4 linked regions of the Homo sapiens genome follow. The protein of the gene in region 4 interacts with the protein of the main gene of each other region in a biochemical or structural test. Each region holds a gene or a part of one and is shown on either strand. Other genes may lie near its edges. The genes, in order: NIN, SNAI2, LRP6 and GSK3B.

The links.
Region 1: of the proteins of GSK3B (region 4) and NIN, one has a biochemical effect on the other in vitro, tested with the Homo sapiens proteins (2 studies listed by BioGRID and IntAct).
Region 2: of the proteins of GSK3B (region 4) and SNAI2, one has a biochemical effect on the other in vitro, tested with the Homo sapiens proteins (2 studies listed by BioGRID).
Region 3: of the proteins of GSK3B (region 4) and LRP6, one has a biochemical effect on the other in vitro, tested with the Homo sapiens proteins (2 studies listed by BioGRID, with this or other methods).

What each region holds. Positions count from the first base shown.
Region 1 is NC_000014.9:50,750,838-50,758,174, reverse strand, and holds part of NIN (ninein), read left to right. Parts: coding exon 1-1,683; intron 1,684-3,307; coding exon 3,308-3,433; intron 3,434-3,542; coding exon 3,543-3,612; intron 3,613-5,441; coding exon 5,442-5,657; intron 5,658-7,337. UniProt on the Homo sapiens protein: Centrosomal protein required in the positioning and anchorage of the microtubule minus-end in epithelial cells. May also act as a centrosome maturation factor.
Region 2 is NC_000008.11:48,918,396-48,926,220, reverse strand, and holds the start of SNAI2 (zinc finger protein SNAI2), read left to right. Parts: upstream 1-4,791; 5' UTR 4,792-4,955; coding exon 4,956-5,034; intron 5,035-5,779; coding exon 5,780-6,325; intron 6,326-7,232; coding exon 7,233-7,414; 3' UTR 7,415-7,825. UniProt on the Homo sapiens protein: Transcriptional repressor that modulates both activator-dependent and basal transcription. Involved in the generation and migration of neural crest cells.
Region 3 is NC_000012.12:12,179,708-12,187,044, reverse strand, and holds part of LRP6 (low-density lipoprotein receptor-related protein 6 isoform b precursor), read left to right. Parts: coding exon 1-122; intron 123-2,933; coding exon 2,934-3,065; intron 3,066-5,605; coding exon 5,606-6,002; intron 6,003-7,063; coding exon 7,064-7,235; intron 7,236-7,337. UniProt on the Homo sapiens protein: Component of the Wnt-Fzd-LRP5-LRP6 complex that triggers beta-catenin signaling through inducing aggregation of receptor-ligand complexes into ribosome-sized signalosomes.
Region 4 is NC_000003.12:120,000,292-120,007,628, reverse strand, and holds part of GSK3B (glycogen synthase kinase-3 beta), read left to right. Parts: intron 1-5,389; coding exon 5,390-5,583; intron 5,584-7,337. UniProt on the Homo sapiens protein: Constitutively active protein kinase that acts as a negative regulator in the hormonal control of glucose homeostasis, Wnt signaling and regulation of transcription factors and microtubules, by phosphorylating and inactivating glycogen synthase (GYS1 or GYS2), EIF2B, CTNNB1/beta-catenin, APC, AXIN1, DPYSL2/CRMP2, JUN, NFATC1/NFATC, MAPT/TAU and MACF1.

The sequences.
Region 1 (7,337 bases), on a different chromosome or scaffold from region 4:
GGAGGTCCTGTGCCAGGCAGGGGCTTCGGAGCAGCTGGCCAGCCAGCGGCTGGAAAGACTAGAAATGGAACATGACCAGGAAAGGCAGGAAATGATGTCCAAGCTTCTAGCCATGGAGAACATTCACAAAGCGACCTGTGAGACAGCAGATCGAGAAAGAGCCGAGATGAGCACAGAAATCTCCAGACTTCAGAGTAAAATAAAGGAAATGCAGCAGGCAACATCTCCTCTCTCAATGCTTCAGAGTGGTTGCCAGGTGATAGGAGAGGAGGAGGTGGAAGGAGATGGAGCCCTGTCCCTGCTTCAGCAAGGGGAGCAGCTGTTGGAAGAAAATGGGGACGTCCTCTTAAGCCTGCAGAGAGCTCATGAACAGGCAGTGAAGGAAAATGTGAAAATGGCTACTGAAATTTCTAGATTGCAACAGAGGCTACAAAAGTTAGAGCCAGGGTTAGTAATGTCTTCTTGTTTGGATGAGCCAGCTACTGAGTTTTTTGGAAATACTGCGGAACAAACAGAGCAGTTTTTACAGCAAAACCGAACGAAGCAAGTAGAAGGTGTGACCAGGCGGCATGTCCTAAGTGACCTGGAAGATGATGAGGTCCGGGACCTGGGAAGTACAGGGACGAGCTCTGTTCAGAGACAGGAAGTCAAAATAGAGGAGTCTGAAGCTTCAGTAGAGGGTTTTTCTGAGCTTGAAAACAGTGAAGAGACCAGGACTGAATCCTGGGAGCTGAAGAATCAGATTAGTCAGCTTCAGGAACAGCTAATGATGTTATGTGCGGACTGTGATCGAGCTTCTGAAAAGAAACAGGACCTACTTTTTGATGTTTCTGTGCTAAAAAAGAAACTGAAGATGCTTGAGAGAATCCCTGAGGCTTCTCCCAAATATAAGCTGTTGTATGAAGATGTGAGCCGAGAAAATGACTGCCTTCAGGAAGAGCTGAGAATGATGGAGACACGCTACGATGAGGCACTAGAAAATAACAAAGAACTCACTGCAGAGGTTTTCAGGTTGCAGGATGAGCTGAAGAAAATGGAGGAAGTCACTGAAACATTCCTCAGCCTGGAAAAGAGTTACGATGAGGTCAAAATAGAAAATGAGGGGCTGAATGTTCTGGTTTTGAGACTTCAAGGCAAGATTGAGAAGCTTCAGGAAAGCGTGGTCCAGCGGTGTGACTGCTGCTTATGGGAAGCCAGTTTAGAGAACCTGGAAATCGAACCTGATGGAAATATACTCCAGCTCAATCAGACACTGGAAGAGTGTGTGCCCAGGGTTAGGAGTGTACATCATGTCATAGAGGAATGTAAGCAAGAAAACCAGTACCTTGAGGGGAACACACAGCTCTTGGAAAAAGTAAAAGCACATGAAATTGCCTGGTTACATGGAACAATTCAGACACATCAAGAAAGGCCAAGAGTACAGAATCAAGTTATACTGGAGGAAAACACTACTCTCCTAGGCTTTCAAGACAAACATTTTCAGCATCAGGCCACCATAGCAGAGTTAGAACTGGAGAAAACAAAGTTACAGGAGCTGACTAGGAAGTTGAAGGAGAGAGTCACTATTTTAGTTAAGCAAAAAGATGTACTTTCTCACGGAGAAAAGGAGGAAGAGCTGAAGGCAATGATGCATGACTTGCAGATCACGTGCAGTGAGATGCAGCAAAAAGTTGAACTTCTGAGGTAATGTATGTACCTTCTAGACGTCACGAATCCCACAGAGCACCTCACCAGATCTAACTTCCACTGCTTGCCGTGCCTAGAGAAACTAACCTAGTAGTCTTCACGAAGAGAGCAGTACTCTCTAGACTTCCTTCTGCTTCTGTGCCGTATTAACAAATAAAATAACCTTGTTTAGGAGGCATTCCCTTCCGCTGTAGCAAACAAGTGTTCATATGGGGTGTGAAAGTTCACAATGGCGAGTGTTTGCTGTTTAACCATGTGCATCCTCAATGTACCTCTTTAACTTTTTTCTAGCACTTATTTCATTTAGATGGATAGGGGATTTTTTTTTTTTATTTTGCTAAGTGTTACTTTCCTCATTTTGAGGAAACATGTTATATACAAATGAATGATTTTTTGTGTATTATTAACTTAGTAGATAAGAACTCACTTCTTATGCTAATATAGAAAAAATGTTCTGTCTTTATAGTTTTGTACTCATATCACTTGAAGCACATGCTGATAACCCATAAACAGTGCAAATGGTCAGGCACCATGGCTTAAATGCCTGCAATCTCAACTGTTTGGGAGGCCAAGGCAAGAGGATTTCTTGAGGCCAGGAGTTTCCAGGCAAGCCTAGGGAACATAGCAAGACTGCCTCTACAGAAAAATAAAAAAATGTTTGCTGGGCGTGGTGGTGCACACCTGTGGTCCCAGCTACTTGGGAGGCCGAGGTGGGAGGGTTGCTTGAGCTTGAGAGGTCAAAGCTGCAGTGAGCCATGATCATGCCATTGTACTCCAGACTGGGTGACAGAGTGAGACCCTGTCTCTTTTAAAAAAAAAAAAAAAAAAAAAAAAAAAAAAGAGACAAAACAAACAGTGGAAATTTATCTTAGAACATATAATTTGAGGAGCCTCCAGATTCTAATAAATATGCTTGAAAAGCAGAGATACAAGTAGAATTAATTTGAACCACTGCCCACTTGACATTGTAAAATATAATTGCATAGTCTTCTAGCAAATTTGGTTTTTCAAAAAAAAAAAAAACTTGTAAACTATTACAGGACGTCTGAAATGTCTCTGAAATAATTTAATTCTGAATGTAGTTTTTCCTCTTCTTCAGACCATTTTTAGTCCTAAAAATCAGAATATAATGAGATGAATAAAATCACAAAGTAAACAGTGTACATATTTCATTGTGGCCCTTTGATTTCAATAGAGAATTTTCTTTCCCTAGGTACCCAGGGGCCTAAAACTAAGCTAATATAGCTTTGTAACATGGCTTATGTGTATTCAGAACAGGTAGGACTTGAGACTGAGATAAATGAAGACATTTGCTCAAAGCAGTATGCTTGCCATTGAGAAAAATCAACAACCAGAATGAGCATTGAGTCTTGATTCATTTCTCCAGGCTTAAGGGTTTTTTAGCTACACTTCTCTAACATCTTTTAGTGAAATTCTTACTTCCCAAAAGAAATGTGTCAATATGTCATAACTCGATTTCCAAATACTAAGAGACTACTAATTTAGACTTTTCTTTTTAACTGGCATTGAATACTCATCCTTTTGGAAGTTACTAGAAAATATTTTCCAAAGATGCCAGATGACTGCCTTGTAACAATTTTTTTCAATCTCTGTGCTTCAGATATGAATCTGAAAAGCTTCAACAGGAAAATTCTATTTTGAGAAATGAAATTACTACTTTAAATGAAGAAGATAGCATTTCTAACCTGAAATTAGGGACATTAAATGGATCTCAGGAAGAAATGTGGTAAGACGTATACTTACATTTTCCTAAGACATTTTTGCAAAGACTAAAATTCTTTTACTTCAGCTTTTAAAGCCTAACCATTAAATTTTATTTTCATCATTCCTTTTAGGCAAAAAACGGAAACTGTAAAACAAGAAAATGCTGCAGTTCAGAAGATGGTTGAAAATTTAAAGAAACAGGTAAGGAAATACTTAATATTTCTCAATGTTTTTTGATTCCAAAATTTTCCCATTTTTTGAAATTTATAAATTTACAGCACACGGTAATGAATAGCATATAGCTAATGATGGTAAGGTTGTAAATTCTGAATTTGAAAATGGAAACTTACCTCATACTGACTCTAAACTAGCTTCCTGTTTTATGTTAAATAATGTATATATTATTCTAGGCCCTAAGTGCTTGATAAAGCTTTATCATCAGCAGAATTGAGGAGGTGATACCTCTAAAACCATACCTACGAAATATTAGCTGTAGCCCTTGTGCAGTTTCAGTTAATGTTAGCCCTTCCTTTTTCCTCACCATGATTGAAAGCAGAAAGTTAAGGGCAGAATTTCACATATACAGAATGCCAGCTAATCAGCATATCATTTCACAGAATTACATTTTATTCAGATAGCTGGTGCCATTCAGTGCTCAATTTGTATAATCTTACAACATGCAGTTATAAAAAGGGAAGGCCATTTAAGAATCTGTCTGAAGCAGTCAAAAGACAAGGACATATTGGGAAAGAGTATTTTCAGCACTTGAAATAGACAAGGTGTTAACATCCAAAATGTATTTTGGACTCTTACAAATAAATGGGAAAATCCAGTTGAAATATAGGCAATCTATATGAATGGTCAAGTCACAGAAAAAAAAAAGAATACAAAAGATGGTTAGCCTTATTAGTGATTAGAGAAGTGCAAATTCAATAAGCGTCTTTTTTTTAACCTATTGAATTAGCAAGAAGTAAAGATTGATATCTAGTATTTAAAAGGATGTGAGGAAATGACTGTGCCCATGCATTGTTGTTAGGATTATAAGGTGGTAGCACTGTGAGGAAGACATATTAGAGATATCTGTTGAAACAATAATGAATATATATCTATATACAGATCTTCTAACCCAGCAATCCTACTTCTAAAAAATAATTCTAAATACAAAATACTACCATGTATAAATGGATTTTCTAAAAGATCCATTTAAAAGAAATAATGATTTTAAAAACTTTATGTCTATCAACGTGGGAACAGATAAATGCATTATGGAATATCTTACTACATGGAATATCCTATAGCCAGTAAAAAGTAGTATGTGGTGGTTGCTGAACACACTGACTTGGAAAGAGTCTTTTTTCCTTTTGAGACGGAGTTTCGCTCTTGTTGCCCAGGCTGGAGTGCAATGGCGCAATCTCAGCTCACTGCAACTTCTGCCCCCTGGGTTCAAGCGATTCTCCTGTCTCAGCCTCCCAAATAGCTGGGATTACAGGCACATGCCACCACACCCGGCTAATTTTTGTATTTTTAGTAGAGATGGGGTTTCATCATATTGTTCAGGCTGGTCTCGAACTCCTGACCTCAGGTGATCCGCCTGTCTCGGCGTCCCAAAGTGCTGGGATTACAGGCGTGAGCCACCGTGCCCACCTGGAAAGAGTCTTTAAGTAAGTAAGTAGAAAAAGCAAGCTGTCCAAACATAAAATTTCCAAATTTTGCTAAAGAGAAGAAAAGAATCTGTATGTGTGTATGGGTTCTGTATATGCGTAGAAAATGATCTGGAGGGACACATATCCAGCTGTGGACAATGGGCTCCCCTGTAGAGTGGGGTCAGACTGAGTGTCTCACTTCTTCATACACTTGTGAATGGAATGAATTTGTAATAATGAGTGTGTATTATTTCTGTTTTGAAATATATATATATTTTAAACTTTATATAAAGAGGGAAAAGACAATTATGTCTCTAAATCTGTTTTTTTTTTTTTTTAGCACAAGTAGGGTAACAAGTTTGAAAAACTTATTTTAATTTTAATTAGATTTCAGAATTAAAAATCAAAAACCAACAATTGGATTTGGAAAATACAGAACTTAGCCAAAAGAACTCTCAAAACCAGGAAAAACTGCAAGAACTTAATCAACGTCTAACAGAAATGCTATGCCAGAAGGAAAAAGAGCCAGGAAACAGTGCATTGGAGGAACGGGAACAAGAGAAGTTTAATCTGAAAGAAGAACTGGAACGTTGTAAAGTGCAGGTATGGCCTGTAGCCACCTGACAGCTTTTTTTGAGGAAATCCCAAGAAATAGAAGAAATGTTTGTATTAAACTTCCTTAAACATAAAGCCTTAGTAATTAAAACAGTATGGTCCTGGCACATGAATAGATAAGTAGGTAAGTGGAATAGAAAGTCTAGAATTAGACCCAAATACAAATGGAAACGTAGTGTATAACCAGGGCCACTTCTCAAACCACTGGGGTAAAGATGGACTTTTAAATTAATGGTGCCTGAACAACTGAGTAGACATTCGGAAATAGATAAAATTAGACCTATGTTTCATTCCATGCACAAGGATAAACTTAATTGGATTAGGAGACTAAATATAAAAAAAAAAAACTATACAAATATTTGAAGAAAATACGGGTGAATTTGTCTTTAACCCTGGTGTAAAGAAAGGCTATTTAACTGTAACTCAAAAACCGGAGGCAATAAAAGAAAACACTGATTATATGTTAAAAAAAGTTTACTTGGCAAAAAGATACCATAAACAAAGTTAGAAGACAGCTGACAAACTAGGAGAAAATATTCACAACATATACCACAGTGAGAAGGCCTAATATCCCTGCTAGTAAAGAACTCTTAAAAATGGAGGGACATGGGACCAAAAATTTGATAGCAAAATGGGAGAAGCATACGAACAAATAAATCATATACAAAAGATAAAAATGGGCCAGGCGTGGTGTCTCACACCTGTAATCCCAGCACTTTGGGAGGCCGAGGCAGGAGAATAGCTTGAGCCTAGGAGTTCAAGACCAGCCTGGACAACATAACAAGACTCCATCTCTACAAAAAGTTTAAAAATTGGCTGGGTGTAGTGGCACACACCTGTGGTCCTAGCTACTCAGGAAGCTGAGGCAGGAGGATCCCTTGAGGCTGTACCACTACACTCTAGCCTGGGTGAGACCCTATCTCTAAATAATAAAATAAAATTATTAAAATGGCCCTCAAATCTATGGAAAAATGTTCAGAATCACTCAAAATTAGAGAAACGCAAATTAAAACAACACTTGTATAATTTCTCACCTATAAGACTGGCATCAATTTTAAAATATGACAGCATACTCTGTTGGCAAGGCTGTGGGGAAACAGACTCTTTCATGCTTTGCTGGGAGAATACAAACTGGTACCGCCTTTTTGTAGGTGAATTTGACAATACCTAACAAAATTACATATGTACCTAGCTTTTGCCCTGGAAATCTCACTTCTAGGAATCTACCCTAAAGATACCACCGCAACAATATGAAAACTCATATGCAGAGGGTTACTCACTGCAGCACTGTTTCTAATTGCAAAATGGTGGAAACAACATAGATGCTGATGTGTAGGAGAGTAGGTGAATACATGTGGGGGTTATGTCCATACCATGAAGTAGTACTGTGCAGCTGTTCAAGAAAAAGGAAGAAAAGAAATCCTTATTTATATGAAATGATTTCCAAGACATACTGTTAAGTGAAAAAAGAAAAGTGCAAAGAAGTATCTATAGAATGCCTTTGTGTGTGTAAGAAAGGGATATTAAAAAGTACATGTCTGCTCATTTGTGCAAAAGAAACACAAGAAGGATAAACCAGAAACTAAAAAGGGAGGGTGGGAAAGGGATGGAACAGAGGAATGAGAATGCGCTAGAAGGGACGAGGAAGAACAATGACACTTCTCTGAG
Region 2 (7,825 bases), on a different chromosome or scaffold from region 4:
CCTTGGAGGCAGACAGACTAAGAAGAAATCATTCTGAATGCCCTGGAAACTGGGCTCAGGCTTGGTTTCCCATTTTTAAAATTCCTCTACCTTGGAGGTTATCATGCAAACATAACAAAGAGTCCAGAAGGTTGCTCACTTGCCTCCAGTGTAATGCTAGCTGTTTCTGCCTACTTCCTTCTTGACTGCACAGACTGATGACGTCATAACATTCCCTTTCTCGCCTATCTTATAAAATCATCATAATTTGTTGTGTAAATGTTGTGCATATTTCTACAAATACAAATGTGTCACTTTGAATTATGAGTACATTAATAAGTTCAACAAATTTATATAATGTCCATCTGAAATTGTGGCAATTGCAAAACAAGGTCAGGTTGATGTTCTCAGGGTTGAGTCAAATCCACCCATTTTCCACTAGGTGGCAGACCTTGTTAAAAAGTTACGGAAAAGGAAAGAAAGACAAAGAAAATAATGAGTCTTCTGAAGCTGACCAATAGATGTCTCTTTGCAACCACATATCCCTGAGCTGTCGCTTAAAATACACACAAATTCAACACTCCCTAGTCTTTCTTTTTCATTTTACAGATAATATCATCAACACTTTCCACAAGGTACACACAGAACACTGAAGAGATGAATATCTCTTACTTTTCATGATGCACTTAACCATATTCTATCCACCCAAAGGGAAATGAGATCATACAAACATAACTAGGAATAAGATTCTGAACACAAGTGACTTGGCAGAAAGCAGATTTCATTAAAATGCTGTTCCCAAGTTAAGGGTTTTCTGTTTGGAGTGATCTTAAATATTTACTGATCATATGTGATGGTACTTATTGAGCTATTGGCATTAGCACTAACTCCAGACAGACGCAGATGCCTAGTGGCTATTGGCCTGCTGAACATGACACTGGGAACACGCAGGAAATAATGGAAACTCCTAAACAGCAGAGGGACATCCTGACACCATTTTTGGCTATTATTTTCCCAACATTCAGACATGTGAGTGCTCACACAAAGGTGTGTTCATGCTCATATTTGGCCCTGTTGACATCACCAAGCACATATACTTACATATGTGGAGTGCATAGGCGAGTGCCATCCATTCCCTTTGAGAAAAGAGGTTCTCCTTATTGTGGAGCTCAGAATATATAAGCAGAATCCCATGCCCGCTCTGACAATTTTCCAAAAGGAAATTTAGGAATATTTCTTCCTAAATCCTTTTACATACAGATATGTGTATGTTAAAAACCCACAAAATGGCATCACACCCTTGTCATTCAAACTTCAAAGTTATATTTAATAAATGCTTTGTTTCTATGTAAATAGATTTTTAAAATTACTAATGTATTATAATATTCTCCAGATAGCACAGCCAAACTCATGATATTTCATCACTTCATATTTTTCAAGGGATATGAATATGCATATGAATTGAGGAGATATGAACCCCCTCCAGAGTGATCATACCACACACCAAACTTAGAAAGAGATGCCTTTCATTTTAGGAGATAGGACACAGCATAAAATGGGATTTTTCAGCCTATGCCACACTCTGGTTTCTTCTGGTGCTAGATTTACTACTCCATTTCCTAAACATGGTAGTCAATACTTGCACTGCTTTTTACACACCTAAATACCTAAATGTGTACAAATCTCCACGCAAAGTAAAGAAACCCAAGGTGCGTTCCCAAACCTCACGGATCTAATTTATTCCCCTACTTGGCAGGGCAAGAATGTGTCTTTCATGAAGAAAACTGGCTCCGGGAGAAACCCCACCCATCCAGGGAGCCTGTGGGGAAGGCTGGCCCAGATCTTTAACTTACAAAGTTTTCCACAAGTTATCTTGGTCAGCTTCTTCAGAAAACAGAGAAAATGAGAGCCTGTCAGGTACGTCACATCAAATCACATCATGGCAATTAAGGAATTAGATTATACGGGTGTCTGGGGTGCCAGGCAACCCGCACAACCCATGCCATGGAGTCTCGCCAGTGTGGCTCAAGCCTAGGAAGGATTATTTTTTAAGCCTCACTATGGCCTCCAGAGTTCCTTTTTTCTCCCTACACTACATTAAACTCTCAAGAGCCTAAGAGCAGAGCTTGTGCCTTCCTTTTGTCTTACCCGTGCCCACTGGCTTCACCCTGGCTGGGCTGTGTCCACGTGGCTCTAAGAACAAGCACCATTTATTTAATTGTTATGAAATAAATTAGGCTGATAAACCCAATCAGCCTAATTATGGAGCACCAATTTCTCACCAACCTAGGACTGAATCCTTGGATTAGCAAACCCACTTGGGTTTGCTTGTTCCATTTTTCCCCCTCAGTCATTGATTTGACTTCTATTGGATTCCAGAATGAAAGCTTTAAAATCTGGTGCAGTTGCCTCCACAAAGATTTCTGTCCCTGGGCAAGAGAAAGTCTTTTTGTCAACGACCAAAGCCAACCCCTCCAGATGAGCCCTCTGGCTGGCAGAAGGAAAGGAAACCTCTGTCTTGTCTTAGCAGAGTCCCAGCAGCTGGCCTTTGGGTGTGGCCTTGACTTCCCGGCTTGCGTTTTTACCACATGGTGCTGGCGCCACATGCCCTCCGCTGTGTCTGAGCAGAGCACCTGTTTCGTCTGACTCACGCCATCAGCGCGCAGACTCGCCCTGCTCTGACAGCGGCCCAGACCTCACACGGGCATACGTGTTACTCGCTAGCACGCGGATCTGTGTAATGACATGCCCCATGCACAGACCCGAGCCCCATCCTCTCCTCACAGTAGGTGTGGCCGCACGTCCTGACGCCGATCTGTGCAGTGCACCCTCGGATACCTGCTGATGGGGCTGGGCTGGATTATGCCTCTGTGATCCAAATGTAAGCTTTTTTCATGCATAGTGAATTATTATTAAACGTTGTAAATGGATTTTTGAATACACATTTTAGTAGATGATCTTGTGTTATAACTACCAGCAAATAAATACCAAAACATTGTCTAACACTCTTCTTTGTTGTGAATAGACTGTGTAGAGTGAAACAAGGAAATAATAGCCATGGCGATATGTGTTTTCTCAACTGTGCTATATCTGTAACAAAAATGTGTGTTTTGTGGGAAATGGAGTGAAAAGCAAGGAGGACTCCTGCTCTCATAAACCCAGGTGCCTACATCCGAACAAACCCTCACATAGAGTAGCAAGCTTAGAAAACTGCCTCTGGCTTTTACTCCAGGTTCCAGTTTGTGTGTGGAGAAATCGAATATGTATTCATATTTTCCTCTCTCCTGCAAGTACAGTTCCATTAGCATAAGGATTCCTTTGAATTATTTTCTCTGTTTGACATTTAAATTAGTGACTGTTGGAAGAAATAAGAATAATCATTGAAATTAGCTTAGGAAATCTGTGAGTGCCCCACCTCACCCTCCAAACACACATACACTCTTGTTTTCTCATTCCAAGATTAAGAAGTTATGCAACCTGACAATGCACTTTTCTCTGACAAGTCTTGACATCACCACTGTTATTTTCTTTTTCACTTTTTTCCTCCAGCACCTGTTAGAAACAAGAGTAGGGTGATCTTCATGTGAATTTGTTCTTTCCTTATTCTTTTAGCAAAAGATAGGGATAAAAGTCTGCAATGGACAGAGATGCTTTAAAATATGCTTGAAATTTTATATTTAAAATAAACCACCTGAAAGTATTTTTAGATTGAAGACCATACACAAAATAAAGGTGTTTTTGCAGTTACTAGACTGGGTTCTTAAAACTTTAATCAATCTATATTCATAATAATATCCTTCAATTTCTTTTTTAGCATTATACAGGAAACTGGTAGATACTGAGATGGATTTTAATGGCTTTATACTGATGAAAATAGCACCACATAAAAGCAGGGGAATATTAGAAATAAAAATAATTGTCTCTAAAGACCCATACAACCCTTTTTCCCATAAAAAAAAAGATGCACTGTAATACATGAAAAGATAAGATCTCTTGTCAAAAGTGTGAGAGAATGTCCGGTGGTTCCAAATGACAGTTACCTCTTGCCCCCCTTCTCTGCCAGAGTTCCTTTTTATCTTTGCAATCTTCCAGTTCTTCCGATCAGCCTGCCTTTAGAGGGCTACAAAGCATTTCTTTCAAGCCACCATAGCTAACACGGTGACATGAGTACTTAATTTGCACGCGGCCGCGCTGCCCCTGGCTTCGCGGAAGCCCTGAGTAGCGCAGCGCCCTCGCCGCACGCAAGGCTGCAGTCCCGCTCCAGGCCAGAGTCCCAGGAGAGCGTCCTCCGCGCTCACAGGCGCCTTTGTCTTCCCGCTTCCCCCTTCCTTTTTCAAAAGCCAAGAGGTAATTATTTGGTCTTTGTGCAAGGCAAACCTCTCCAGATGCCACTTCCAAATATAGGCTCTCATTAACACCAGAGGCTGGCCTGGTGTGGTGCAGGGCGGCCCTTCCTTCTCCTGGCGGACACTGTGTCCCCGCGCGCTGGCGCTGCACCACATCTGGAAGCCAGGCGGGCAGGGCAGAGACCCCGGCTCCTGCGCCCCTCCTAGCTCCCAGAGAGCGTGGATCGCGGGCGGGGCTCACCGAGCGAGGTTACCTCTCTTGAAAATACTTAAACACTTTTTTTCCTCTCCACTGAAATCTCAAAAAACAGCCCATTTTGAACCAGAATAATTTAGTCTGACAACAGATTCTTCCTCTGTTCACAGCTGTCCCAGAGGGAGGAGCTGAAATCTGAACCTCTCAGCTGTGATTGGATCTTTCTTGCAAAAGAGAGGAAAAAAAAACCCTCCCAGCCAAAACGGGCTCAGTTCGTAAAGGAGCCGGGTGACTTCAGAGGCGCCGGCCCGTCCGTCTGCCGCACCTGAGCACGGCCCCTGCCCGAGCCTGGCCCGCCGCGATGCTGTAGGGACCGCCGTGTCCTCCCGCCGGACCGTTATCCGCGCCGGGCGCCCGCCAGACCCGCTGGCAAGATGCCGCGCTCCTTCCTGGTCAAGAAGCATTTCAACGCCTCCAAAAAGCCAAACTACAGCGAACTGGACACACATACAGGTAAAAAGAGAAAAATATATCTAGAACTACGTATCTAGAGCTTTGCAAATATGAATCTACGTATTACCCTTCAAATACCATTACAAAAGAGCCAAAGATTCAACTGTTTTCCTTTTTAACAGTGTCCTGAAAGGGAGCTTACATTCTTTTGATCATTTAGGGTTCGTTTTAATTCAAAACTTTTAAAATTCTTGACTAACAAGGAACATTTCATTCAAATCTCGCAGCTTCGTTTGCTAAAGCCTGTGTATACATGCATAATGAGTATGTGAAAGATGAGCAACATAAGGATTGAATTACTGCGTTTTTCATGCACTAAGTCTCCTTTCCTTTAGAAGGCGGCTTGATGCAGGCATATCTTTGTACTCACGGTCGTAATACACCTAAATAGCCCATACGTAACATGGAAAACAACTTTTCTGTATGTTTAAAAATAATGTTGAGGCTCTCCTTCCTCAATGGGGACGGCGAAGGCACTGGCTTGGCTGCACTGTCTGACTTCAGAGCACCTATAGCTCCGTGCAGCTGTCAGCCTATGTGTGCATTAAGTACAGTAACTCCGTAGGTGCCAGGGTGGAAATGAAACATTTTACCAGTGTGTATGCCCTCCTAAATGGGTCTATCTTCTTCCTAAGAAAATCACGTGTGTGTTGCTAAATATCTTTCCAGTGTGTGTATACTTGCGTGTGGATTTATTTTTAATTATTTTTGCCTTAATCTTCTCTCCCTCCCTTTTCTTTCCCAGTGATTATTTCCCCGTATCTCTATGAGAGTTACTCCATGCCTGTCATACCACAACCAGAGATCCTCAGCTCAGGAGCATACAGCCCCATCACTGTGTGGACTACCGCTGCTCCATTCCACGCCCAGCTACCCAATGGCCTCTCTCCTCTTTCCGGATACTCCTCATCTTTGGGGCGAGTGAGTCCCCCTCCTCCATCTGACACCTCCTCCAAGGACCACAGTGGCTCAGAAAGCCCCATTAGTGATGAAGAGGAAAGACTACAGTCCAAGCTTTCAGACCCCCATGCCATTGAAGCTGAAAAGTTTCAGTGCAATTTATGCAATAAGACCTATTCAACTTTTTCTGGGCTGGCCAAACATAAGCAGCTGCACTGCGATGCCCAGTCTAGAAAATCTTTCAGCTGTAAATACTGTGACAAGGAATATGTGAGCCTGGGCGCCCTGAAGATGCATATTCGGACCCACACATTACCTTGTGTTTGCAAGATCTGCGGCAAGGCGTTTTCCAGACCCTGGTTGCTTCAAGGACACATTAGAACTCACACGGGTAAGAGAAAAACCATAGGCAGGAATGTTACTCTGAGATACAATGAAGCCCTGGGCTGGCTGTTGGATTTGCATGAAGTTGTGACATAGTGCTTTTAATGATGGACAGTCATTGATAGCTACTTCCTGACTACTCAAAAAGTTGTTAGGGCACAAAGTGCTCCATTTCTTGCTAACAACCTCTGCTCCAGGGACTGCAAACAGCATGTAGACTTTGGAAAGTAGATTCAGAAGGTTTGGTCTCAAAGATCAGTTAGAAAATCAGGAAAGATGTGCTTGAATGTGTGTTCTGTGAAACTGCCCCCAGTAATCAGCAAATACAAATGTTGCTATCTTAATCAATTGATTTGGTTAATAGATGAAGGCTTTTCCTACAGTTTTCTGTTAGTTACATTCTTGCTCTGATATTTGTCACCCGTGGGTGACTTGGATAGTTGAAACTAAATTTACTTTGCCTCTCTTGCTTTGTTTGGGGATTTTTTGCTCCTTAATTTCTTATTCGTATCACAGAATTATTCTGCAGGGTATCATGGCACTTAGACCACCTTAATCATAGTACAGAAAGAGGGAAAAGGGGAAATATTGGGAAATGTTGGGAGGTGCTCAACATTAGCTGCATCTGCTAAAGCAGAAAGCTTTAAGAAGTGAAAGTCCAAGAACTACGTAAATTATTTCTGTATGATTGGCAGCAGTAATAATATTCGTGTATGATTTTTAAATGCAATATTCAAGTTTATCTTAAAAATTCAGGTATTTTTAAAAGTGTCTATTATGAGGGATTTTAATCAGGTTTTGCTGCTTCTCATTATTTAAGCAAAATGTGATTGACTTTTGTTAACATGATTTTACTTTATGTTTCCTCTAAAAACACTGACTGTCTTTCTTTTTTTCTCCCACTCCACCCCCAGGGGAGAAGCCTTTTTCTTGCCCTCACTGCAACAGAGCATTTGCAGACAGGTCAAATCTGAGGGCTCATCTGCAGACCCATTCTGATGTAAAGAAATACCAGTGCAAAAACTGCTCCAAAACCTTCTCCAGAATGTCTCTCCTGCACAAACATGAGGAATCTGGCTGCTGTGTAGCACACTGAGTGACGCAATCAATGTTTACTCGAACAGAATGCATTTCTTCACTCCGAAGCCAAATGACAAATAAAGTCCAAAGGCATTTTCTCCTGTGCTGACCAACCAAATAATATGTATAGACACACACACATATGCACACACACACACACACACCCACAGAGAGAGAGCTGCAAGAGCATGGAATTCATGTGTTTAAAGATAATCCTTTCCATGTGAAGTTTAAAATTACTATATATTTGCTGATGGCTAGATTGAGAGAATAAAAGACAGTAACCTTTCTCTTCAAAGATAAAATGAAAAGCACATTGCATCTTTTCTTCCTAAAAAAATGCAAAGATTTACATTGCTGCCAAATCATTTCAACTGAAAAGAACAGTATTGCTTTGTAATAGAGTCTGTAATAGGATTTCCCATAG
Region 3 (7,337 bases), on a different chromosome or scaffold from region 4:
CTGGAGCACACACTCCATTTTGGCTTGCAACAAGTATACTGGTGAGGGTCTGCGTGAAATCCATTCTGACATCTTCTCTCCCATGGATATACATGCCTTCAGCCAACAGAGGCAGCCAAATGGTAAGTGATCCTTGATTTTTAAATTGCAAGTTGGAACAGCTTTGTAGCACTCTAATGTCTGGCTTTAGTGAGGATCAGGAGGAGGGAGGGCATATCCAAAGATAGTTGGCGGGAATAAAAAAGAGTTAAAATCCTACTTGGGAGGCTGAGGCAAGAGAATCACTTGAACTCGGGAGGCCGAGGTTGCAGTGAGCTGAGATTGCGCCACTGCACTCCAGCCTGGGAGACAGAGAAAGACTGTGTCTCAAAAAAAAAAAAAAAAAAGTTAAAATCCCAGCACTTTGGGAGACTGAAGCAGGCAGATCATATGAGGTCAGGAGTTTGAGACCAGCCTGGCCAACCTGGTGAAACCCTGTCTCTACTAAAAAATACAAAAATTAATGGGGTGTGGTAGTGTGCACCTGTAGTCCCAGCCGCTTGGGAGGCTGAGGCAGGAGTGTCACTTGAACCCGGAAGGTGGAGATTGCAGTGAGCCGAGATTGTGCCACTGCACTCCAGCCTGGGCAACAGAGCGAGACTTTGCTCAAAAAAAAGGGAAAATGTAAAAGTATAATTCAGGTTAGGCAATAGCCTAGACCATTTTGTAGCCTGTCACTACAGACCACCTCAGCCTTTTTGAGTCAGCGCTTTTAGAGGTGGAGAAGAGAGAGATAATTTAAAAATTGAGATAGCTTATATGCTAGGCTTATACACAAATGAGTTTTTTTGTTCATATTATTTCTTTCAGTATGTAGTTGAATGTGTTGATGTGAGTGTGTTTAAAAAACAAACTCTTGGGCCAGGCGCGGTGGCTCATGCCTGTAATCCCACACTTTGGGAGGCCAAGGCAGGTGGATCACTTGAGGTCAGGAGTTTGAGACCAGCCTGGCCAACATGGTGAAACCCCGTCTCTACTAAAATAACAAAAATATTAGCCAGGCGTGGTGGCGTGTGCTTATAATCCCAGCTACTTGGGAGGCTGAGGCTGGAGAATCGCTTGAACCCGGGAGGCAGAGGTTGCAGTGAGCCAAGATCACGCCATTGCACTTTCAGCCTGGGCAACAAGAAAGAAATTATGTCTCAAAAAAAAAAAAAACAAAAAACACACACACACACAAAAACGCCTCTTCTTTTTAAATGAAAACTCTGTTAATCTAGAATATATTTGAATTTAAGTACCTCAGCTTGCTAAATAAAATACCTACTTAAACTTTTCTGTGTACCCCTCCCACCTTGTTTTCCTTAGTTTTGGTTCTGTGTTTGGTCAGCCTTTACAATGACTCGGGCTATGACTGCTGAGAACTTGTAAGAGAGGACTGGAATTAGGTTTAAAAGGAATACGAGAATGTTAAGGGTTTGGCACTTTTGTGTAAATAAATGTCTGGCATCTGTCTGAGTGTATTTCAGATTTTATTACATAGCCAAAAATGAAGAGATTTTGCAACATATGTTGCTTTATATTAGCTCTCCATTTAGGGGGAGATAATCAAATATTGAAAGTGTTATGTTGGAATCTGATGATCATGAGCCCATAAAAATGTTTTTAAGTGTATGTGTTACTCTTCTGTACAAAAGAAAATGTTCAGTCACTTGTATGAATTTTTTTATTCTTCATAGCCCTCAAAAGAGAATTTTCCCTGTTTTTTGTTTGTTTTTTGAGATAGAGTCTTGCTCTGTTGTGCGTTTATGTGATCACGGCTCCCTGCAGCCTCGAACTTCCAGGCTCAAGTGATCTTTCCACCTCAGCCTCCCTAGTAGCTGGGACTACAGGCATATGCCACCACACCTGGCTAATTTTAGTATTTTTTATAGAGGTAGGGTCTCACCATGTTGGTGACCCAGGCTGGTCTCAAACTCCTGGGCTCAAGTGATCCACGCACCTAGGCCTCCCAAAGTGCTGGGATTATAGTCACGAGCCACCGTGCCTGGCCTCTTGTTTTTCTTTTTAAATGGCATTGTTGGTCCTTTATGTTTTACTAATTTGAGAATTTGCAGTTATCTTTCATGTTGGTTACTTTTATCTTTCATGTTCCATTGGTCTCCATCTTATGTTGATTTTTTTCTATGAGTATTGTTTGGACATATCCCTTTCCATAATTTCCAAAGTTTGCTAATTAGTTTTCTCTGATTTTCATTTTCCCCTTTTTTCTGCTTATCCCTTCTATGTTAATCTTCCCAAGGCATGACTTTTCAACATAATTACTTTTCTTGGCTTTCAGTGTCCTTCACTTTAATCTATTCCCATTCTTTGTATTCATTCAGCTTTAGTTCCTATTAGTCAGTAGAAACCTTAACCTCCAGTTATACTGTTCACCTTAATATCTTACCCAGTTTATAGCCCCCAAAGTTTTATTCAGATAGCTTTACCATACTTGAAATGTCCTCTTATCTATCCTTCCTATCCTTGAAGGCTCCCGTGCTGTATACTCCACAAAGCTCTTCTTCAATTCTTTAAACCTCAGCGGTTTTTTTCCCATTTGACTCTGTACTTATTGTCTATAATGTGCAAAATAGCACTTAGTTTTATTGGTTTTGTTTGTTTGTTTGTTTGTTTTTAGTTTTGCTTTTTGTTAATTTTGTTTAACTGACTAAATTGTAACCTCTTTTAGGGCAGGGATCTCCTGCTTTACTTCTTGTGTATTCCTCTTTGGTTACAAAATACTAAGTAAATTCACACTGATTAATTCCTGTCTTTGCAGATGGTTTGATAGTCAAGCACCTGCATGACATTTGGTAATAATTTTGGCTTATCACAGTTGTTCATGTTATGGTTGTTAACCTTTGTGTACTTAGTAATCATTGATATTAATCAATGTGATTTATATTTGACAGCCACAAATCCATGTGGAATTGACAATGGGGGTTGTTCCCATTTGTGTTTGATGTCTCCAGTCAAGCCTTTTTATCAGTGTGCTTGCCCCACTGGGGTCAAACTCCTGGAGAATGGAAAAACCTGCAAAGATGGTAAGAAGATATTATCCAAAATGAAAAATTTTATAACTATTGGAATTCTTCATGATTTGTTTTCTCTATAATCAGCTCTCTAGGTTATACTGCTTTGGGAGACCAGTCACTTAATTTCACAGTCTTCACACATGGTTATAGAATAGGAGTGTTTTGTTCTGTGGCATCACTTGAATGCTATTTTATAAATTATTTTAGTGTTTTAAATAACATATTTTTGAAAAAAGTTACGTGTTGTATCTTTTCTGTCAAATCTCATAGTCATTGATATCACAGTTGATAACTATGGAAATGAGTAGTCGCATAAGGAATATATTTTTAACAGGTAGCATTTGTGAATAAAGAACCTCTGTGAAAGAAAGTATGTTTATTAAACTTTTAGCTACAAAGAATATCATGAGATATATTTTATAACAAATTATTTAAGGATGTTTTAAATTGCTTTTTAACAACAGAGAGATGCTTTCAGAGCTGGGAAAAAAAATCCATATTTAAAACAACTTCTTTTTATACTTAAGAAACACACTTTGCCTGTTCTCCTTACTCTTAATTCCCTATAGAGAGAGGGCACGTTGGAGAAAGTATACTGATTTAGGACATTTTAAGGGACTTCCAGTTTGGAAGAACACCAGTTCTTCTGTTTTTCTTCTTAATGAGAATGTTATTCTTCATTCTCACCCCTATGGATCACCATCTGGTTCTCTAGCAACCAGCAAGACCTGGTAAGAAAATTGTTGTATTTAGCTGTGGCTTCTTTATCTAACTCTGAAAAGCAGAAGCCTGTGTTTTGGAGTGTGTTAGAGTCCCTGGCAAGGGGGCCAGGGAGTCAGAGAGATGGAATTGAGTCTGTGTACAGGATGTTTGTTATGACTTGGCATTGATAAATTATCCTCATAGTAAAAGGTGAAGCTGGCTGACTCTTGGTCAAATGGTTTCCATGGCAGACAGCAATTTGGTTTCAATTTAAAACAAAAGGTTTTTGTAATGTTGCTTTTTTCTTTAAAAATGTAGCCTGACTTTAAAACAGAGGATTTATTTTAGCAATAATGGTCTATCTGCTCCCTCACAGCAGTGCAAGTGTACATATTTAACCAGTTTTGAATTTCATGTGTGCATTTGGCATGTAGTAGCCTTAAGTTAACTGTTCTGTTTTGATCACCTTGCTCAAATTAACAGCTCTATGACTTCTTTGTGAAGTTCTAGGCTGGCTCCTTTTGGTTGTTAGCCGGGGCAGTGAATTGTACAAAGTTATTCCTACTTGGTTCCTGCAGTGGCATTTGGGCTGTATTTTCTTCAAGTTGGAATTCATTTATAATTAGCTCTAGAGTGAAAGGGCTGATATTGAGAGGCTTCACTCCTCTTCTCAGTTTTTTGACTTGTAATTGCAGATTGATTCTTGAAGTTTATATGCCAGTATTTTGTTTTGGACTCATTTATTTAGCTGGGAATCTTTTCTTATTCTTTCAGTTGTCAATTTGCTTACTGTCTTTTATTAGCTTCCTATAGTTAGACGATTTTTTGCTGGTGGTTTACTTGAACAATTTAAAATGAAAAAAAGATTGAGCTCAGTATCTTCATTCTTGGTTATGTGGTTAAGTATTTGGGGCTTGGGCTTTAAACAGTTCATAAATAAACCTAATTTAAAATTCAGTGAAATAAAAATCTGAAAATCTTTATTTTTTAATACTGTTGTTAAGTATTAGTTAATATTTCTTGAGTACTTAAATGTTCAGTACTTTCCTGAGTTTTAGATTTATCTCCTTTAATCCTTACAACAACCTTACAAGGTATAGATGGGGAAACTAGGCTTAGCGAGATTAGATATTTTCCCAAAGTTTGTGTAGCTTCTTGAATCAAATTATATTGGATCCACAACTCTTAACCACTGTGTTATGTTTATCTGGTTCCTTCCCTCCATTGCAGCTGTTTGTTTCTCCATAGCTTGCTTTGTCCTCAATTCTGTGAGGTATTGCCCTGTATTTCTCTTTGTTAAGACAGTTTTACTGAGATGTAACTTACATAGCATATAAAATCCATCCATTTTTTAAATTGTACAATTCGGTGACTTTTTAGTAAATTTACAGAGTTACGCAGTTATCACCACAATCCAATTTTAGAACATTCCTATCAAGCACAAAGATTCTTGTCCTAAATTTCTTTATCTTTTTTTAAAAAATGCTTCTTGAACAAAGGATCTATATCCTACATTTCCTTCTCCTTTAATACTGAGCTACTTAGCTTCTTAGTCATTACATAGTCATTATTCATTGTACTTTTAAATAGCTGGATTAATTCCAATGAAACCATAGAATGTATCACAACTTAATTTGGAGAGTTAGCCATTAAACAGCTTGACCTCAGAGTAGACTCTTCTATTTCACTGTATTACTTTCCATTTCCACTCTAAAGAGAGTGCACATCCTTTTGTGTTAATTTATGTATATTTTATATTTATTTTTCAGTTCTTGATTCTTTATCTAGAGCAGGTAAATTTTACCTCTGGGTTTCAAAGTATTCTTCATTTCACTTTGTTGTTCTAGGTGCCACAGAATTATTGCTTTTAGCTCGAAGGACAGACTTGAGACGCATTTCTTTGGATACACCAGATTTTACAGACATTGTTCTGCAGTTAGAAGACATCCGTCATGCCATTGCCATAGATTACGATCCTGTGGAAGGCTACATCTACTGGACTGATGATGAAGTGAGGGCCATACGCCGTTCATTTATAGATGGATCTGGCAGTCAGTTTGTGGTCACTGCTCAAATTGCCCATCCTGATGGTATTGCTGTGGACTGGGTTGCACGAAATCTTTATTGGACAGACACTGGCACTGATCGAATAGAAGTGACAAGGCTCAATGGGACCATGAGGAAGATCTTGATTTCAGAGGACTTAGAGGAACCCCGGGCTATTGTGTTAGATCCCATGGTTGGGTAAGAAGCTCTACTGATAGTAAATTCTGTGTGGTGTTTCTGTTTTTCACAGGTTCCTGAAAACATTGACTAAGATAACATGACATATATATTGGTTTCCAGTAAACAGCTCTTTAATGGCTGTCTATTTTAGGATATGGTGATTAGAATACAATCTCAAGTTTAAAAATTGCTAGTTTTTTGCCTTGGATGTCTTAGATATTTTTTCTTTCTAAATTAAGTCCATGTTTGCTGACTTTGGGTGTTGTCTGCAGATTTTGCTCGGATTGCATCATTACCATGAAAAATGTGGGAAGAAATTGTTTTCAGAACTCTTTCCCTTCCCCTAGAAGCTTTAATTCCATTTTCAGTACTTTATAGTAAGAATATAGCTTACTTTTTTTTCCCTAAATACATGAATGACTTGATTTCCAAAACTTTGCCAGCCCATGCAGCTTTACTTCTAGTTTGTTGTTGTTGTTTGTTTTGTTTTGCCATGCCACCCTGATCATAGTCCAGGGAAGTACAACTTTTTACATACTCAACAATTTTGTTACTTTGAGATTTATTCTGAGGACAAGCATAGTGACAAATTACACCTCAGTATATACCAATGCCTTAGAGCCATCTAAACATCCAGGAGCCGTAAGAATCACTTAGCACTGCAGGAAGAAATAGTTATTTTGAGAATTCAGTTTGCCATCTGACTAATACTGCTGGGATAAGCCTTTTGTGTCAGAGAGATGACAAGCCATCAAGGAAAAGAGAGAGAAAGTTCATGGAAAAGGGCACACAAAATATTTAAAAAAAAAAAAAAAAAAAAGAAGTAAAACTGTAATCTCATTATTGGGAGGCATTTTCAGGATTGGCTCTAGAACACACTGATCTGAAAATTTCCCACAATCTTATATATTGCTGGGATAAATGTCTTAAACACCTCTTCATATGTTTTTTTTTTTTTCCCCTTCCTTGGCATTAACTGATGATACCAGTGTAATAGGAGGGATGGATCTCACCTTTAGAATATCTGAAAGTTACATTTTATTATCTATTTTTAGCTCATTTTTTGTATACTTCTCTAGGTACATGTATTGGACTGACTGGGGAGAAATTCCGAAAATTGAGCGAGCAGCTCTGGATGGTTCTGACCGTGTAGTATTGGTTAACACTTCTCTTGGTTGGCCAAATGGTTTAGCCTTGGATTATGATGAAGGCAAAATATACTGGGGAGATGCCAAAACAGACAAGATTGAGGTTTGTTTTTTGCTTTTTCATTTTCAAGCCACTTTTATAATGGGTTTTGAGTCGACAGTATAATGATTTGAGTACAGATATTCTTTTTTCTTAACAGTTGTC
Region 4 (7,337 bases):
TTATTGATTTGCATATGTTGAACCAGCCTGTCATCCCAGGGATGAAGCCGACTTGATCGTGGTGGATAAGCTTTTTGATGTGCTGCTGGTTTCGATTTGCCAGTATTTCATTGAGGATTTTCGCATCAGTGTTCATCAGGGATATTGGTCTAAATTTCTTTTTTTTTGTTGTTGTGTCTCTGCCAGATATCATTTGGTATCAGGATGATGCTAGCCTCATAAAATGAGTTAGGGAGGATTCCCCTTTTTTCTATTGATTGGAACAGTTTCAGAAGGAATGATACCAGCTCCTCTTTGTACCTCTGGTAGAATTCGGCTGTGAATTTGTCTGGTCCTGGACTTTTTTTGGTTGGTAGGCTATTAATTATTGCCTAAATTTCAGAACCTGTTATTGATCTATTCAGAGATTCGACTTCCTGGTTTAGTCTTGGGAGGGTGTATGTGTCCAGGAATTTATCCATTTCTTGTAGATTTTCTAGTTTATTTGCGTAGAGGTGTTTATAGTATTCTCTGATAGTAGTTTGTATTTCTGTGGGATCAGTGGTGATCCCCTTTATCATTTTTTATTGCATCTATTTGATTCTTCTCTCGTTTCTTCTTTATTAGTGTTGCTAATGGTCTATTTTGTTGATCTTTCAAAAAATCAGCTCCTGGATTCATTTATTTTTTTTTTTGAAGGTTTTTTTTCTGTCTCTATCTCTTTCACTTCTGCTCTGATCTTAGTTATTTCTTGTCTTCTGCGAGGTTTTGAATTTGTTTGCTCTTGCTTGTCTAGTTCTTTTAATTGTGATGTTAGGATGTTGATTTAGATCTCTCCTGCTTTCTCTTGTGGGCATTTAGTGCTCTAAGTTTCCCTCTAAACACTGCTTTAAATGTGTTCCAGAGATTCTGGTATGTTGTGTCTTTGTTCTCATTAGTTTCAAATAACTTATTTCTTTCTGTCTTAATTTCGTTATTTACCAAGTAGTCATTCAGGAGCAGGTTGTTCAGTTTCCATGCAGTTGTGTGGTTTTGAATGAGATTCTTAATGCTGAGTTCTAATTTGATTGCACTGTGGTCTGAGAGACAGTTTGTTGTGATTTCTGTTCTTTTACATTTGCTGAGGAGTGCTTTACTTCCAATTATGTGGTCAATTTTAGAATAAGTGGGATGTGGTGCTGAGAAGAATGTATATTCTGTTTATTTGGGGTGCAGAGTTCTGTAGGTGTCTATTAGGTCCGCTTGGTCCAAAGCTGAGTTCAAGTCCTGAGTATCCTTGTTAATTTTCTGTCTCCTTGATCTGTCTAATATTGACAGTGGGGTGTTAAAGTCTCCCATTATTATTGTGTGGGAGTCTCAGTCTCTTTGTAGGTCTCCAAGGACTTGCTTTATGAATCTGGGTGCTCTTGTATTGGGTGCATATATTTTAGGATAGTTAGCTCTTCTTGTTGAATTGATCACTTTACCATTATGTAATGGCCCTCTTTGTCTCTTTTGATCTTCGTTGGTTTAAAGTCTATTTTATCAGAGACCAGGATTTTTTTTTGCTTTCCATTTGCTTGGTAGATCTTTCTCCATCCCTTTATTTTGAGCCTATGTGTGTCTTTGCACGTGAGATGGGTCTCCTGAATACAGCACATTGATGGGTCTTGAGTCTTTATCCAGTTTGCCAGCCTGTGTCTTTTAATTGGGGAATTTAGCCCATTTACATTTAAGGTTAATATTGTTATATGTGAATTTGATCCTGTCATTATGATGCTAGCTGGTTATTTTGCCCATTAATTGATGCAATTTCTTCTTAGCATCGATGGTCTTTATAATTTGGCATGTTTTTGCAATGGCTGCTACCGGTTGTTGCTATCCATGTTTAGTGCTTCCTTCAGGAGCTCTTGTAAGGCAGGCCTGGTGGTGACAAAATCTCTCAGCATTTGCTTGTCCGTAAAGGATTTTATTTCTCCTTCACTTATGAAGCTTAGTTTGGCGGGATATGAAATTCTGGGTTGAAAATTCTTTTCTTTAAGAATGTTGAATATTTTCCCCCTACTCTCTTCTGGCTTGTAGAGTTTCTGCCGAGAGATCTGCTGTTAGTCTGATGGCCTTCCCTTTGTGGGTAACCCAACCTTTCTCTGGCTGCCCTTAACATTTTTTCCTTCATTTAAACCTTGGTGAATCTGACAATTATGTGTCTTGGGGTTGCTCTTCTTGAGGAGTATCTTTGTGGTGGTCTCTGTATTTCCTGAATTTGAATGTTGGCCTGCCTTGCTATGTTGGGGAAGTTCTCCTGGTGAATATCCTTAAGAGTGGTTTCTAACTTGATTCCATTCTCCCCATCACTTTCAGGTACACCATTCAAACGTAGATTTGGTCTTTTCACATAATGCCGTATTTCTTGAAGGCTTTGTTCATTTCTTTTCACTCTTTTTTTTCTAATCTTGTCTTCTCGCTTTATTTCATTAATTTGATCTTCAGTCACTGATATCCTTTCTTCTGCTTGATTGAATCAGCTACTGAAGCTTGTGTATGCTTCACCATGTTCTCATACTCTGGTTTTCAGCTTCATCAGGTCATTTAAGCTCTTCTCTACACTGTTTATTCTAGTTAGCCATTCGTCTAACCTTTTGTCAAGGTTTTTAGCTTCCTTGCAATGGGTTAGAACATACTTCTTTAACTTGGAGAAGTTTGTTATTACTGACCTTCTGAAGCCTACTTCTGTCATCTTGTCAAACTCATTCTGCATCCAGTTTTGTTCCCTTGCTGGCGAGTAGTTGTGTTTCTTTGGAGGAGAAGAGGCGTTATGGTTTTTGGAATTTTCAACCTTTCTGCTGTGGTTTCTCCCCATCTTTGTGGTTTTATCTATCTTTGGTCTTTGATGTTGGTGGCCTACGTATGGGGTTTTGGTGTGGATGTCCTTTGTGTTGATGTTGATGCTGTTCCTTTCTGTTTGTTAGTTTTCCTTCTAACAGTCAGGTACCTTAGCTGCAGGTCTATTGGAGTTTGCTAGAGGTCCACTCCAGACCCTGTTTGCCTGGGTATCACCAGAGGAGGCTGCAGAACAGCAGATATTGCTGCCTGATCCTTCCTCTGGATGCTTCGTCCCAGAGGGGCACCCACCTGTATGAGGTGTCTGTTGGCCATTACTGGGAGATATCTCCCAGTCAGGCTACACAGGGGTCAGGGAACCACTTGGATAACAGTCTGTCCCTTATCGGGAGCTGAAACGCCATGCTGGGAGAACCATTGCTGTCTTCAGAGCTGTCAGGCAGGGACGTTTAAGTCTGCAGAAGCTGTCTGCTGCCTTTTGTTCAGATATGCCCTGCCCCCAGAGGTGGAATCTAGAGAGGCAGTAGGCCTTGCTCAGCTGTGGTGGTCTCTGCCGAGTTTGAGCTTCCCTGCTGCTTTGTTTACACTGTGAGCATAGAACTGCCTACTCAAGCCTCAGCAATGGCAAACGCCCCTCCCCCCACCAAGCTCCCACATCTTAGGTTGATCTCAGACTGCTGTGCTGGCAGCGAACAAGGCTGTGTGGGCGTGGGACCCGCCGAGTCAGGCATGGGAGGGGATCTTCTGGTCTGCCTGTTGCGAAGAGCATTGGGAAAGTGCAGTATTTGGGCAGGAGTGTATCGCTCCTCCAGGTACAGCCACTCATGCCTTCCCTTGGGTAGGAAAGGGAAATCCCCCAACCCTTTGCACTTCCCAGGTGAGGCAATGCCCCACCCTGCTTCGGCTCGCCCTCCATGGGCTGCACCTGCTGTCCAACCAGTCCCAGTGAGATGAACCAGGTACCTAAGTTGGAAATGCAGAAATCACCTGTGTTCTGCAAAGATCTTCCTGGGAGTTGTAGACCAGAACTGTTCCTATTCAGCCATCTTGGAAGCGACCATGAATGCCATCTTACAAATGAAAGTGTTAATTGGTCACAGACATTCACTGGCTTTTGTGTATATTAATACTTCTGTGAATTTAAATGGATATAAATATTGGTTATAATATTCCACTAGTGCATTTGGATATTCATTTATCTAGCAATTTATATTTCACAGAGAAAAATACTCATAAATATTATATTACTTTTCTTTTATTAGGTTAATTGGAATTCAGTTAGTATTTTAGAAAGGAAATTGTAATGGAAGAATAACAGGAAAAAATAAAAGTCCAATAAGTGAGCCTAAGGACTTATATTGTACTGAGAATTGGTTTTAGATTTGTCAGGGAAGAGAGAAGAAACAGTAGACATTTTTGTGTACGTTGAAGTCACTAAAAGAACAATGTAAAGCTCTTTTAGATCAGATACTAGGTAGCATAATACACAGAATCGATTAAGAATTCAGAAAACAAGATGGTGACTGTGGACTATCCCTAGTGAAGTAGGAGGTGGCTCTTGTGCCTGAATTGAAGAGAGCCGTTGGATTGCTACTGGGGTGAGAGAAGGCAAAAAAGGAAAGAAGAGGTCTGTGAGTGAATAGAGACCCTGGAGCCAGTGATATGCTTATATAATTGGGCCTCAGTTCAGAATGGGTTGGATTATTTAAATTTTTATATCTGTTAACCCCAAATTAACATTCTTTTCTCCACCTGAGCTTTCTCTGAGAGGTCTTCTACTTTGCTAAAAAGAAGATTCAGGGAAGCAAACACTCAAAGCCTTACTTTCCTAAATGCAGAAGGATCTGAAGAGAGAAGTTTTAAACATTTTTATTTGCACATATTTTATTTTCAAGTAAAATAAGGTCTTGAAGAAAGCCCTAAGGCCTTTTAGAATTGGATGGATAAGGTCAGACTCTTATGGGTTCACCTTTTGCTATTTGACCATGGGCAAATTTAACATTCTTCCTATTACCTATAATATGGGAACAGTACTGTCTACCTCATGGGGTTGAAACTAAGCATTGTGTCTGGTCTATAGAATGACTGAATACATGGGAGTTTAAAAAATGACTTATAATTGAAACAAGTAATTGAAGTAATTACATGTAATAAACTAAAAATAATTTGTAGTAAAGAATATAGTTTACTTTGACCAGGCGTGGTGGCTGATGCCTGTAATCCCAGCACTTTGGAGGCCAAGGAGGGCGGATCACCTGAGGTCAGGAGTTCAAGACCAGCCTGGCCAACATGGTGAAACCGCGTCTCTGCTAGAAATACAAAAATTAGCCAGACGTGGTGGCAGGTGCCTGTAATCCTAGCTACTCGGGAGGCTGAGGCAGGAGAATTGATTGAACCCGGCAGACGGAGGTTGCAGTGAGCCGAGATTGTGTGACTGCACAACAGCCTGGGTGACAAGAGTGAGACTCCATCTCAAAAAAAAAAATAAAATAAAAAATAAAGAATATAGTTTACCTTGTATATTTTGGCAGTTTTCTCTATTTAATTCCTTACAGTTCTCGTGAAAAAAAAATTTCCTTTCTTCCTTTAGGAGACAAGGACGGCAGCAAGGTGACAACAGTGGTGGCAACTCCTGGGCAGGGTCCAGACAGGCCACAAGAAGTCAGCTATACAGACACTAAAGTGATTGGAAATGGATCATTTGGTGTGGTATATCAAGCCAAACTTTGTGATTCAGGAGAACTGGTCGCCATCAAGAAAGTATTGCAGGACAAGAGATTTAAGGTAAAATGTCCAGTATTTCATATATTTTGTTGCTGTCGTAATACATATACCATAAATGATTATTTTTTTAGTTGCTTCTTTTTGCTTCAAATTTCTTCTATTGTGCGCATTTTTGTTCAGCTCAACCATTGTAGTGATTTTATTTCTAGTCATGTATTTTGTAGAGATAACATTCACTGAAGATTGCAGTATTACTTTTGTAGTCATTACAAATGACATATGTAATATATGTATTTTTTAATCCTGTGAAAGGTAAGTTAAAATTTCTTAATTTATACTATAAAAAGTGACCTGTCCTCACCGTTGTACTGTGTTGATGTAGACCAGAGGAACACTGCCTGTAGCATATAAGCATTTTATGTATTTGACTATGCTTCCTTTTTTCAAAAAATTTTTTTAATCCATGTTGCAACTTGTGTTAGTCTGTTTTTGCATCTCTATAAAGGAATACCTGATATTGAGTAATTTATAAAGAAAAGAGGTTTAATTGGCTCACAATTCTGCAAACTGTACAGGAAGTGTGGTGCAGACATCTGCTTCTAGTAATTGTCTCAGGAAACTTCTAATCATGGGCAGAAGGTGAAGGGCGAGTAGGTGCATCACATGGCAAGAGCTGAGCGAGAGCATGAAGGGGGAGATCCAGACTTTATTATTATTATTATTGTTATTACTATTTTGTAGAAACGGGGTTTTGCCATGTTGTCCAAGCTAGTCTCAATCTCCTGAGCTCAGGCAAGTCGCCTGTCTCAGCCTCCCAAAGTGCTGGGATTACAGGCGTGAGCCACCATGCCCGTCCCCAGACTCTCTTAAATAACCAGATCTCCTGTGAACTAACTGAGTGGGAACTCACTCATCAACAAGGGGATGGTGCTAACCCCATTCATGAGTGGTTGACCCCCTTGATCCAATACCTCCCACCAGGCTCTACCCCGTCTCTACTAAAAATACAAAAAATTAGCCGGGTATGGTGGCGGGCGCTTGTAGTCCCAGCTACTTGGGAGGCTGAAGTAGGAGAATGGCGTGAACCCGGGAGGCAGAGCTTGTAGTGAGCCGAGATCGCGCCACTGCACTCCAGCTTGGGGGACAGAGTGAGACTCTGTCTCAAAAAAAAAAAAAAAAAAAAAAAAGGAGATTACATTTCAACATGAGGTTTGGAAAGGGATAAACATCCAAACCATATTACAACACTATCCATTTTTCTCGTAACTTTTTTTTTTTTTTTTTGCTATCTTCCCTTTTTTTTCTTGTCCTTCTGCCTTTAGACACTAGCAATCCCAAAATTCAGTTCTCGTCATGTATTTTCATTTTCTGTACCTCATTAGGGGAGCCTATGCATGGAAGCTCAGATGTCATCTCTATGTTGTGGTATAGCAGAGAGAGTCAGAAGACACCGGGTGTAATTAAGCCTCTGTCACTATGCAGCGTTGCTCCCTTTACTACTCTTCCAACCTCTGCAACATTTTAGTGGGAGCCTCCAATGTACCAAGATCTATGGTAAACATGAAGGGATATAACAAGAAGAAGTGATCACTGTTCTGGTATAACACTAGTTATACCACATTCTAGTGTCCATCTGCTGTAAATATCTGGAACATTCTAAAGAATTTTTAAAAATTCAGTTGTTTTTGTTTTCAGTTCTCACCTCTCCCCCAAGTACTAGTCTCATGTTGTCAAATGCCCACTGGATCTTGATATCTGAATATTGTACTGTTATCTCAAATTGTCAAGCCATCTTATCTAACTATGACTTAACT